Linked DNA regions of Homo sapiens: region 1 is linked to region 2. Evidence: fine-mapped expression QTL. A gene starts in region 2. The other region holds a variant in brackets. All regions are shown on one strand. Distances are between the middles of the regions. Region 1 overlaps FBXW4 (F-box and WD repeat domain containing 4). Region 2 holds the start of BTRC (beta-transducin repeat containing E3 ubiquitin protein ligase).

Evidence for each region. PIP is the estimated chance that this variant, and not a neighbour inherited with it, causes the effect.
Region 1: its variant is fine-mapped to the expression of BTRC in sun-exposed skin (GTEx, PIP 0.93).

The regions. Positions count from the first base shown.
Region 1 is chr10:101,609,453-101,614,808 of GRCh38, reverse strand. FBXW4 (F-box and WD repeat domain containing 4) reads left to right here. Exons shown (of 9, transcript NM_022039.4): 7 at 2,332-2,472; 8 at 3,040-3,181; 9 at 3,399-4,143. The coding sequence ends at 3,518. DPCD (deleted in primary ciliary dyskinesia homolog (mouse)) reads right to left here. Exons shown (of 6, transcript NM_015448.3): 6 at 5,147-5,356. The coding sequence ends at 5,338. Among named protein-coding and RNA genes, the nearest start is that of MIR3158-2, 11 kb to the right of the region's middle. RefSeq lists enhancers at 708-1,241, 1,242-1,775, 2,933-3,433. The variant G/A (reference allele first, on the strand shown) is at 2,061.
Region 2 is chr10:101,351,694-101,357,063 of GRCh38, reverse strand. It overlaps BTRC (beta-transducin repeat containing E3 ubiquitin protein ligase), which reads right to left and starts at 2,899. Exons shown (of 15, transcript NM_033637.4): 1 at 2,836-2,899. The coding sequence starts at 2,883. RefSeq lists a silencer at 2,676-2,855 and an enhancer at 5,124-5,370.

The sequences.
Region 1 (5,356 bases), 260 kb before region 2:
ATGGGCCTTTTCCCAGAGCCTGGCGTGTCAGTTTATGCTCTGAACTTAACCTCACGGGCACCACACAACAGAGCCTTGAGGGTCCTGGGCCCAGGGGCAAAAGAAATTGTATCTTTTCATTGGCCCATTTAAAGTGTGTGTGGCCATTTTAGAGAACCAGAGAACAGCACAGCAGAAAGAAACTTCTCAGCCCCTGCCAGGCTGTGCGGGCAGAGCAGGGGCTCTCAGGACTTGTGCTGGCCTCCAGGGCCTGGTGCTCACTGGGCCCTTGGCTCTCCCCCCGAGGGCAGGGACCCCTTGGGCTGTCCTGTATTTCTGACTGCAGATACTTACGGCCATGACATTTTCCAGTGGTGGCATGAATGCTGGGGTAGGGGCCCAGCTTGGCAGCCCAGTCTGGGTGGGCCTTTTATACTGCTGTCCCTGTGCAGCCCCATGAGTGCCCAGCTCTCCTTCCCTCTGAACCCAGGGACCAGGGTGGGCAGGTAGAGCCATGCTGGGCTTCAGTCCTCCCAACCCCCACTGCCTTTCATCTTCTATTTCAAACAAACATGAAATTACTTCTATAGATTAAAGGGGAGAGCTCCTCAATCATTCCTTAAGGCCTCACTAATGGAGGGGGCAGGGCCCCCAAATCTGGAAGAGGGAGGAGAACTGTGGAGCCAAACAGCCCCTACCCAGCATGCACCCAGTATACCTGTGAAAGAGAGAGAATGACTCCCCTACAGGGCTCTGGCCTGCCCAGGGTGGCTGAATCTTGGCTGGTGGCCCATCTGGGAAGGCAGGGCTTCTCTGGGAGCCAAGGTTAGCAGTCTCTAAGGGATGCTGATCTGGGGAGAAGGCCTTCTGCCTGATCCCTCTCAGGAGCCCCCCAACAGACAGAGGCTTGCCATCTTCTCCCCGCAGGCCCAGCTCTGGGCTACTGAGAGGAAGACCAGAACTTCCCTGAGGAGGCTGGTAGCAGGGGTGCTGCCTTGGGGATTAATTCCCCCCTGGCAGCAGCAGTGCTCCTGGCCAGGGCCCACTGCCCAGGGCTCAAAGGGGAAAGGTGGAAGGGGCAGAAAGGAACCCCCAGTCTCCTCCTTTGATTCCTTCGGCCTTCGGGAAGATGGCAGCTCTGTTGGGGAGAAGGGAGGTTGTGGGTCAGGGTCTCAGTGAGGTGGAAGGACGAGAGCTGACATCTGCATTCAGACATGTGGCTGGCTGCCTTGTCTGCCTCAAGCCCTTTGCTGACATGCTACTTGGGCCAAAAGGGCTGGTGAGCCATGAAGTCCCCTCACTCCATGCCAGGGCCTCTTACCTGGACATCCCTGTGAAGTGTCCACGGCCTTGTTTCTCCTGTCATGGCATGGGGAAAGCCCAGCGTCTCACGGGTAAAGGAAGCTAAGGCATCAGGCCTGGAGGGCGCCCCTTTTCCTTCATTTCCCCCAGTCATTCTGTGGAAACTCCATACTTGCACCCATCCCCTGGCTGCAGGGATTAGCGGGTGCACTTGATGTTGAGGGGTAGTTGCTAGGGACAGGAGGCCCCCCTACATAGTTGCTAGGGGTCTGGCATCAGGGCAAAGGGTCTGCCCACTGCCGCGGTCACGGAGGGAATTACACAGTCACAAAGAAATTGTTCTCAGTAATCTGCTCTCGGCCCCCGGGTGGGGTGAGGGTGGGGGGAGCAGGCTGGAGCCCCACAGGCTGGGGGCTGTGATCACGGAGGCGTGCTAGCCCCGGGCTGGGGGCCAGCTAGACCAGGAACACCAGGGACAGCTCGCTAAGCTGCTTTCTCAGCGATTTTTCTCCCCAGACACAAAGGTGTTTACTTGTTTTAACATCTCCTGGGACTCCCCTTCTCCCTTTGTGTGGTCTTTATCCCCAATGAGGTTTGAGCCCCAGATTACAGGCAGGAATTAAGGCATTGGACTCAGGCAGCTCAGAACTGCATGACCTGCAGGATCAAGATGTATAAAGTAACCAAGTGTGTGTGTGTGTGTGCATGTGCATGTGAATGTGAGGGGGGCCGACCCCTTCAGCAAGCCCCCCCATTCATTGTCCTGAGGAGGAGTGGCT[G/A]GGTGGGTGGCAGCCGGCACGCAGGTGTGATGGAGGGGCTGCTGAGGGCTGGGATGCTGGGGGAGGGGTGGGGCCTGGGACTGGTTGCAGAGGCCTCATGGCAGGGGTGAGGTGGGTAGGAATTGGGCATCTCCTCCCTGAGCCCCCTTCCTTGAGTCTCATTCTAGCTGAGGAAAGAGAACATTTCCCCAAGGTCTGATGCCTTCTGAAGGTGGAACGAATGTGTATGACCCACGTGGAGCAGCCTCTCACTCCGTCCTTCCCTTCCCAGTGGGCAGCTGATGACACACTTGGGCAGTGACTTTCCCCCAGGGGCTGGGGTGCTGGATGTCATGTATGAGTCCCCTTTCACACTGCTGTCCTGTGGCTATGACACCTATGTTCGCTACTGGGACCTCCGCACCAGCGTCCGGTGAGTGTGCTGGGCAGGGAGGACAGGTGGTGGGGGCCCTGCACCAATCCTGGTCCTTCCTCCAGTCCTGGGTTGGCCCATGGGAGAGGGCACAGAGACTCCATGTCAGGGCTGGGAAGGAAGAGGCCTGCAAGGTCACTAGACTTCCTACATTTGGGCAGCCCTGGTCCCAGTGGCTTGGCTATAGCCAACAGGCCTTGGCAAAGGCAGGCGTTTCCCAGAGCCTCTGGAGCCGTCAGGGTACTGTCACTCAATATTCTCTCCCAGCCTTTCTTGAGGCCTGTGTTACTTCAACCTTTCTTGAGTCCAGTGACAAGTAGCTGGCCATGTGAAAACAGAAGTGCAGGCATAATCTGCTGTGTCGTCTGGGCCATGGCGAGAGCCCTCTACAGAAGATGCTTTCTCCCATGAAGTTCGGTTTTTGATGAATCTGATGATTTAGGCTTCTTTCTCTTCCATCCCGGAATGGCTCCTTAACGCTCCCCTCAGCCACTCTAGGCCCAAGAAAGCTGGGGTAGAGGTGGAGGGTACCCTAAACCTCCCTCTGCTTCTCCTCTTCCTGGACAGGAAATGTGTCATGGAGTGGGAGGAGCCCCACGACAGCACCCTGTACTGCCTGCAGACAGATGGCAACCACCTGCTGGCCACAGGTTCCTCCTACTACGGTGTTGTACGGCTGTGGGACCGGCGTCAAAGGGCCTGCCTGCACGTAAGTGTCCTGCCCACCTCTTCTCCAGCATGCCAGGACTCATGATTATGGGCTGCATTTGGGAGAGGGTGAGGTAGCCAAGGACGTGCCTAGAAAGGGTTGGAAGAAGCCTACAATGGCACACGTCCCTCTTCCCCTGGGCCTGGGGATCCTGGGTTAGGGCACACCCATGTCCCACTTGGAAAGCTCTTACCACTTCCTGTGCCCTCCCTTCCAGGCCTTCCCGCTGACGTCGACTCCCCTCAGCAGCCCTGTGTACTGCCTGCGTCTCACCACCAAGCATCTCTATGCTGCCCTGTCTTACAACCTCCACGTCCTGGATTTTCAAAACCCATGACCGTCAGGGCCACCCCTGCCTCTGGGCCAGGGAAACCAGCTACTCAGGGACTTCTCTTGCCTGGAGGGTGCAGTGATAGCTCCTCCTCACTGCCCCACTGTGCTCCTGGGCCTGTGACCCCAGTGCTCAGGCACCTTGCACTAGAGGCTTCTGACTCCTGGGACTTTGGAGCTTACCAGAGATGCAGTCCCTCCCAGGAACCTGTTGGAGAGGCAGGACCTGCTGCTTTAGAGTGCGGCTGAACCCGGGCCTTGCGTCCCTGTTTGGCCAGAGCAAGGATCTGGCCTGGAGAGGCCCATCCTATACCCCTTATTAGAGCCATGACAGCCTACAGAGTGAGGTGAGGTGCTCCCACCTTCCCAGATGGTTCCTTTCTGCCCCTTCCTGGAAGGAAAGGTGAGGCTGCCAATAGCCTCCTGGCACCAGCCAGACCTCACCCTTGACCAACCTCTCGGGGCTGGGGGTTCATTCCTGGGGCACTGTGGCCTGGTTTTGCTTTGAAACCAAGAAAGAGCAAAGGGAACCCAGCAGTTCTGAGTGAGTTCTGAGCCAGCCCTACCTCAGGCTGGCTGTTGAGACATGCTACAATTTTCATTTTTGTAAAAATAAAGCTTGATTGTTCACAGATCTGGTTCCTCACTGGCTGAGTAGTCCTAGCAGGCTCCAGGAGAAGGGAACAGCAGACCCAAGCTCAGGGTTGTATGTGCTGCTGAAACGACAAGACCAGCCTCATGGCTCTGTGTCCCAAAGAACAAAGGTTTCTTTTTTTCAGGAAGAGTTCCCATTGATGACCTATCCCTTACCCTTTGGGGTATGGAGGGTCACCTGTGGGTTTGGAGAGGGGACTGTGGAAAGGGTACAGGCTGCTGGAAGCTCAGTTGTTGCCTGTGGTGACCCCTACCCCAACACACACCCTTGGCAAAATTATGACCCTGATTCTGGCTTTTTACCCACAATGCCTTAACATCCTGTGTTCTACTTCCAAGGTTTCTGTTTTGTTTTTTGTTTTTGTTTTTTTGTTTTGTTTTGTTTTGAGACGGAGTCTTGCTCTGTTGCCCAAGCTAGAGTGCAGTGGCATGATCTTGGCTCACTGCAACCTCCGCCTCCCAGGTTGAAGCGATTCTCCTGCCTCAGCCTCCCGAGTAGCTGGAATTACAGGCATGCGCCACCATGGCCGGCTAATTTTTGTGTTTTTAGTAGAGACAGGGTTTCACCATGTTGGCCAGGCTGGTCTTGAACTATTGACCTCAGGTGAGCCGCCCGTCTCGTCCTCCCAAAGTGCTGGGATTAAGACGTGAGCCACTGCGCCTGGCCGGTTTCTGCATTTTTAAAACTTTTCCCTTGCCCACACATCTTCAGGAGTTTCCTCTGAGCCACTTCTGCAAGCTACGGTAGCACAGGGTCCCTCCAGCCTGGTCTTCCTCTGAGTTTGTGTAAACAGGTTGCAGGGAAAGGCCAGCCCTGCCCTGCTAGGGCCATGTGCTCCCACCCTATTCTCCCTTTTTGTGGAAAGCTTTATGTTGTAGGTCTCCGGGATAGAGAAAGGAATGTCATCACACCCTCCCGAGGGAGGCCAGTGGGGTCTGGGGCCAGGCAGCATACAGAGGGGAACAAGAGGGCAGTCCCTGTGCAGTAAGTAACTCAGAATGACTTTACTCAGGAAATATGACCATGACTCACTGGCTAGGAGTGCCCCATGCCCAGTTCTTAGAGACCCTTGATAGCTCCTAGAAGACAGGAGGCTGCCGTGGTCAAGAAGGGCCAAGCCTTGAAGTCTCACGGCACCCCCTGTGGTGGAGGTATAAGGCTCAGGGGCCAACTACTGGGTCTTGCAGTCC
Region 2 (5,370 bases):
TCCACCTCCCGGGTTCACGCCATTCTCCTGCCTCAGCCTCCCGAGTAGCTGGGACTACAGGCGCACGCTGCCACACCCGCCTAATTTTTTGTATTTTTAGAGAGACGGAGTTTCACCATGTTAGCCAGGATGGTCTCGATCTCCTGACCTCGTGATCCGCCTGCCTCGGCCTCCCAAAGTCCTGGATTACAGGCATGAGCCACCGCACCCGGCCTATCTTCCTTTCTTAAAACTGACTCTGAATAAACAGACATGTTATAGCAGGGTAAATGGCACCAAAGGGAAGTTGTGACTTACTCAGATTCATAAGACTGTTACTGCACTGAAAGAGAATACCCAATCTCAAACTCTCCATTCTCTGTTTCTTTTATTAAGGTGTCATTCTGGTGACCCTCTTCTAGTTGACCTTTTCTCAAATGGCAGCCAAAACAGCAGGCAAGGTCAATAATGAAAGTAACTAAAATTAAAAGAAAAAATTGGCTTCTCCCTATGAAAACTGATTCAAGATTTAATAATGTGTGGTGCTCTAAAAGCTGCAACTACTATATGGTCATCTCCAAGTCCACTTTAACTCAACCAGGGAGGCCATTATCAAAACATAACTCACTGGTACAAAGCAGAGATTAAGTAGCTGAGAATGTTACTAGGCTGAAGTCTAACTGAGAGTAAAAAGGATGATCTCATAATGTCTCTTTATGATCTGTAAATCACATTATTCCATAAATCTGACACAAATGTCAGGATTAGGATTAAGAGTCAACCCTCTGCTGGGCGCTGTGGCTCACACCTGAAATCCCAGCACTTTGGGAGGCCAAGGTGGGCGGATCACGAGGTCAGGAGATGAGACCATCCTGGCCAACATAGTGAAACCCCGACTCTACTAAAAATAAAAAATTAGATGGGCGTGGTGGCCCACACCTGTAGTTCTAGCTACTCGGGAGGCTGAGGCAGGAGAATCGCTTGAACCCAGGAGGCGGAGGCTGCACCACTGCACTCCAGCCTGGGCGACAAAGCAAGACTCCATCTCAAAAGAAGAAAAAAAGGAGTCAACCCTCTAAGTAGGAAAACAAAAATAAGCAGTAACAGTTTTCTAACTTAAGTGTAGTAACTTTCACTTACTTCTAAAGTCCAGTAAAAGTTCAAGGTCTCTTCTTCATATTTAGAATTTTAATGTTGGGCAGAAATCCAAGAACCTTCTTCAGGCTCAATGAAATTTTGTTAATGATACCCCTGAATTTTAATTAGGTGTTTTCGAAAACACTAATGCAAGATAAAGTTTTAGTGAATTTGACTAGATTCCAAAAAAGTATTCTTATAAATGGGGCAGTTTAAAGTCTAAAATTCAATTTTGTTAGTATCCATGTTTATCTGGATTTGTTACGGTATTTTAGGCAAAGATACAAAATAGCTATTTTTTTAAGCAAAGGAGTAAGATTTGGAGTGACAAGTCACAATAACTTCTGAAAAAGCAAGACTGGACTGCAAATAATATCAATGTCCCTAAGGCCACCTGTTAAGCTTAAAATCTATGCATTCCATCATTCTTTAGTTGTAACCACAAAGTCTGGTTTTACACCTAGGAAATACAAAAAGCATCAGATTAAAAGCATCAAATATCAGACTATACGAGTTTGCCAAAGATAAGCACAGCAAAAAGAAAAGCGTGATACAAAGTTAAAGAAATATGTTCCAAGGGGTTTAAGCACACCCACAAAATCCAATCTTTGCTCACACTGTGCTTCAACCTAAAACTGACGGGTAACCACAAATCCTGACTTATCCCTGACTTACTTCCCTCTACCAACCTCCACCCTTTTTATCTCCTAAATTTCTCAACTGATCTCATCACTTCTTATGGGTCTTTGCAACTCTCATCTCCACGGCCTTTCCTTTCCCAGAAAATGATACAAAGCACCTGGCCTCCACATTTTACCGTCCCACAATTTACCTTTAAATTTTGTTTTGCTTACCCTATTAGATACTCATTTTGCCCCAATCTCCTGTACCCATGTTTCCCTGACAATCTGCTCTTACTTTTCATCACCTTGTCCTTATTACAGTATTTAGCTTCTCCTTTCAAAGTAGCGTTATGTACCCCTCCCTGACATTTGTAATTCTAGCTTACAGTCAACACCCTTTTCCCCTCCCAGGGACTGTCATTATAGCCCTAGGTCCTCATTCCCAGTCCTTATCTTCTTTAGTGAGGCCTCTTCCCTTCCAGAGTTTGTCAACAGTAGTTTGGCCAAGCTGGGATTCCACCCTCAAGGCAAAGGCTATCCTCCCTCCTCATTCTACAAAACTATAAGCCTCTCACCAGCCCTAGCGTTCCCTCCTCCACCCTTAAATCCATCTGCATCCAGCCCTGCCCGTTCCCCTCTACCCACCGTATCTGTCTTCACTCTATCCCGCGCTCCCTTCCCCAGTCGTGAATGCACCTCCTCTCCCGGGCCTTACCGGTAACCCTGACACCAGGAAGGCCCCGCCAGCGGCCTCACGGCGTTTCTCCAGAGAGCTTCCTCCGCTTTTCAGTAACAGTCCCCACGCCCCTTTCCCTCCAGGGCCCCGCGCGCCGCCTGGAGCCCCCTCCTCGATTAAGCTCCCGCTGTCACTTGGCCTCTCATCCACAAGATGGCGGAGCCGCTGCCCCCACCCCTGGGTCCGCTCCGCAACCCCCAGCCTCCTTTCTGGAGCTCCCATCCCATCCCTCCAGCCGCTCCGCCGCCAGCCTCGGCCCAGGGTCCCGCTGCCCGGTCCCGCAGTGGGCGGGCGGCCCAGGCCAGCGACGCCGCCAACGCCAGCGCCTCCACCGTTCCCCGGCCTCCACCGTCTCCTCACCATAAACTTGAGTGCCTTCTCTTGCAGCACCGCCTCGGCCGGGTCCATAATCGCCGAGGCCACTGGGTCCGCTCTCCGCCGGGGCCGCCCCTTTGGTGCCAGGCCGCAGCCAACGCAGCGCCCGGATCCCGCCTCCTCTTCCTTCCCCCCGCCCTCTCTTACCTCTCAGGCGCAGGCTGAGGGGCCAAGGAGAATCGGCTTCTCCGTGCGCAGGCGAAAGCCCACTGGCTCACGGGATTTGTAGTTCTGGAACTTCCCCCAGGAAAAAAACTGAGGCTACGCCGTGAACCGCAACTCCCACAGTTCACTGCGGCAGCGTTGCGGTTGCCCACAAGCCAGATTTAGATAAGTTGCCATTACGCAGAGGAAATCGGCTGATGGGAATTGTAGTTTACAGCCTCTAAGGATGAGAAACGGGAGGGGCACGGGTGTCTCCGTGGTTACCGAGCGACGCCAGTAGCGGCTTGCCTGGCATTTGATATCAAGATGGCGGCCAATGCCTCACTTGTAGCCCAAATACTAAGAAAAACTGTGGCAAGAATCACGGGTCCTAGGACCTGCCTAACTGTGGTTTTAGGAAGCTGAACGTCCCCAAATTTCATGTATCTGGCATCTGCAGGTTTGCGACCCAGAGTAGCTGGGCCAATGGGCACCTGGCAGCAGCTCACAGACAAATGCGGAATTTCAAGGTCCTCCTAAGCCATCGCCACCCACACTTCTCCCGAGGAATCTTTTCTCCCCCACAGCAAGTCAGGGCCGAATAGAACTCGGTTCAAGAAATTCTCAGTGTTTAGAGCTCAAAAAGCACATAACTTGCTATTGCTAACTGTGGGATGTAAGCCCTGCACTAAGGGTCAAACAGGTACTTAACAAAAGTCCTTCAACGGTGGAATATAATGGCCTCCAGCAAATAAAGCATATAAATATTTTCTTTGGCCTGAAAAGGTACAATATGGGTTTATTTTGGAAATTGGGTCTACCTTAGGAGGAGAAAACTCTAGGGTTTGGTTAAAAGTGATTTAGGTTGTTTTAAGCTGCTATGTTTGTGATAATTGGTTATACAGCCTAAAAAACTGACACACACCCAAATGCCCCTCAGCAGGTGGTTGTATGAACAAATTGTAGCATATTCCATATGTAGCACAGTGGAATATTACTTAGCAATGAAAAAGAACAGTATAACAACAACAACAACAACAAAAGTGATTTAGGGCCAGGCGCGGTGACTGACGCTTGTAATCCCAGCACTGTGGGAGGCTAAGGCGGGTGGATCACCTGAGGTCAGGAGTTCGAGACGAGCCTGGCCAACATGGAGAAACCCCCGTCTCTACTAAAAATACAAAAATTAGTCGGGCCTGGTGGCACGCGCCTGTAATTCAAGCTACTCGGCAGGCTGAGGCATGAGAATTGCTTGAACCCGGGAGGCGGAAGTTGCAGTGAGCCGAGATCACGCTACTGCACTCCAGGCTGGGCAACAGAACGAGACTCTGTCTAAAAAAAAAAAAAAAAAAAAGTGAGTTAGATTGTGACAGCCTTGTACAAAATATCTGAATTTATAAAATAAATGAACTAGGAAAATACTTTTTGACTTATAGGAAAAAATCTCCATTTTAAACTATCTTATTCACTCAGTCATCCAACAAATGGTAAGCATATAACCGTGTGCAGACATCATCTCAAGAAATAGGGATTCATCACTACTTGGGTGGCTAAAATATCAGACTTCACCACTATAATTCATCTATATAACCAAAAACCACTTGTACCCCAAAAACTATTGAAATAAAAATAAAAGTAATTAATTAAACAAAAAGAAAAAGGAATGGGGATTCATTAATGAACAAGACAGACCCAGTTATTTCCTCGTGGAGCTTACACTTTTACTCTGTTGATACTTTGTCCTAGCCCCTATATCCACAAAACTCAGCATGATACTTAATACATAATAGGCTTTCAGTTAATAAAAAGTTTTGTTCTTGAATTTTTAAAAAAATTCTACACAAGTGCAAAATGGAGAAGACTTCAAACGCATTCGTATGAAAACTAGCTGGAGGTTTTCAGAGGACTAAGGCAGTAACAGGATGGAGTTACAAAAAAAATAAATAAATAAATAAATGAAAAGATAAGGTGGGATGATGGTGCAGCCACTGGAAAAGAGTATTCCAGGCAAAGGTAACTGCATTTTTGGTGATTGATTCTGAGAACCAAAACAAGATCAGTGGGACTTTAGAGGAAGAGTGGCCCTAGATGAGACTGCAGAAGAGTATGGGGCTCTATAGGCAAGCCATTATTTAGCCGGCATAAACTGGTCAGATAAATCAGCTGACATGCTTTCTAAACTGGCATCAGGGCCTGTACCTTACCAGATATAAAATACCTTGACTTTCACTCCAGCTTATAGGCCAAGTTCAGTCATTTAGACTGTATCCTGAGAGCTGTGAGAAACTAGCTGAACAATTTAAAAAATGGTCAGATTTGCATTTTCAGAAAATCACTCAGAGTCCAGGGTGGAGGAGAGATTAAAATGGAGCACAG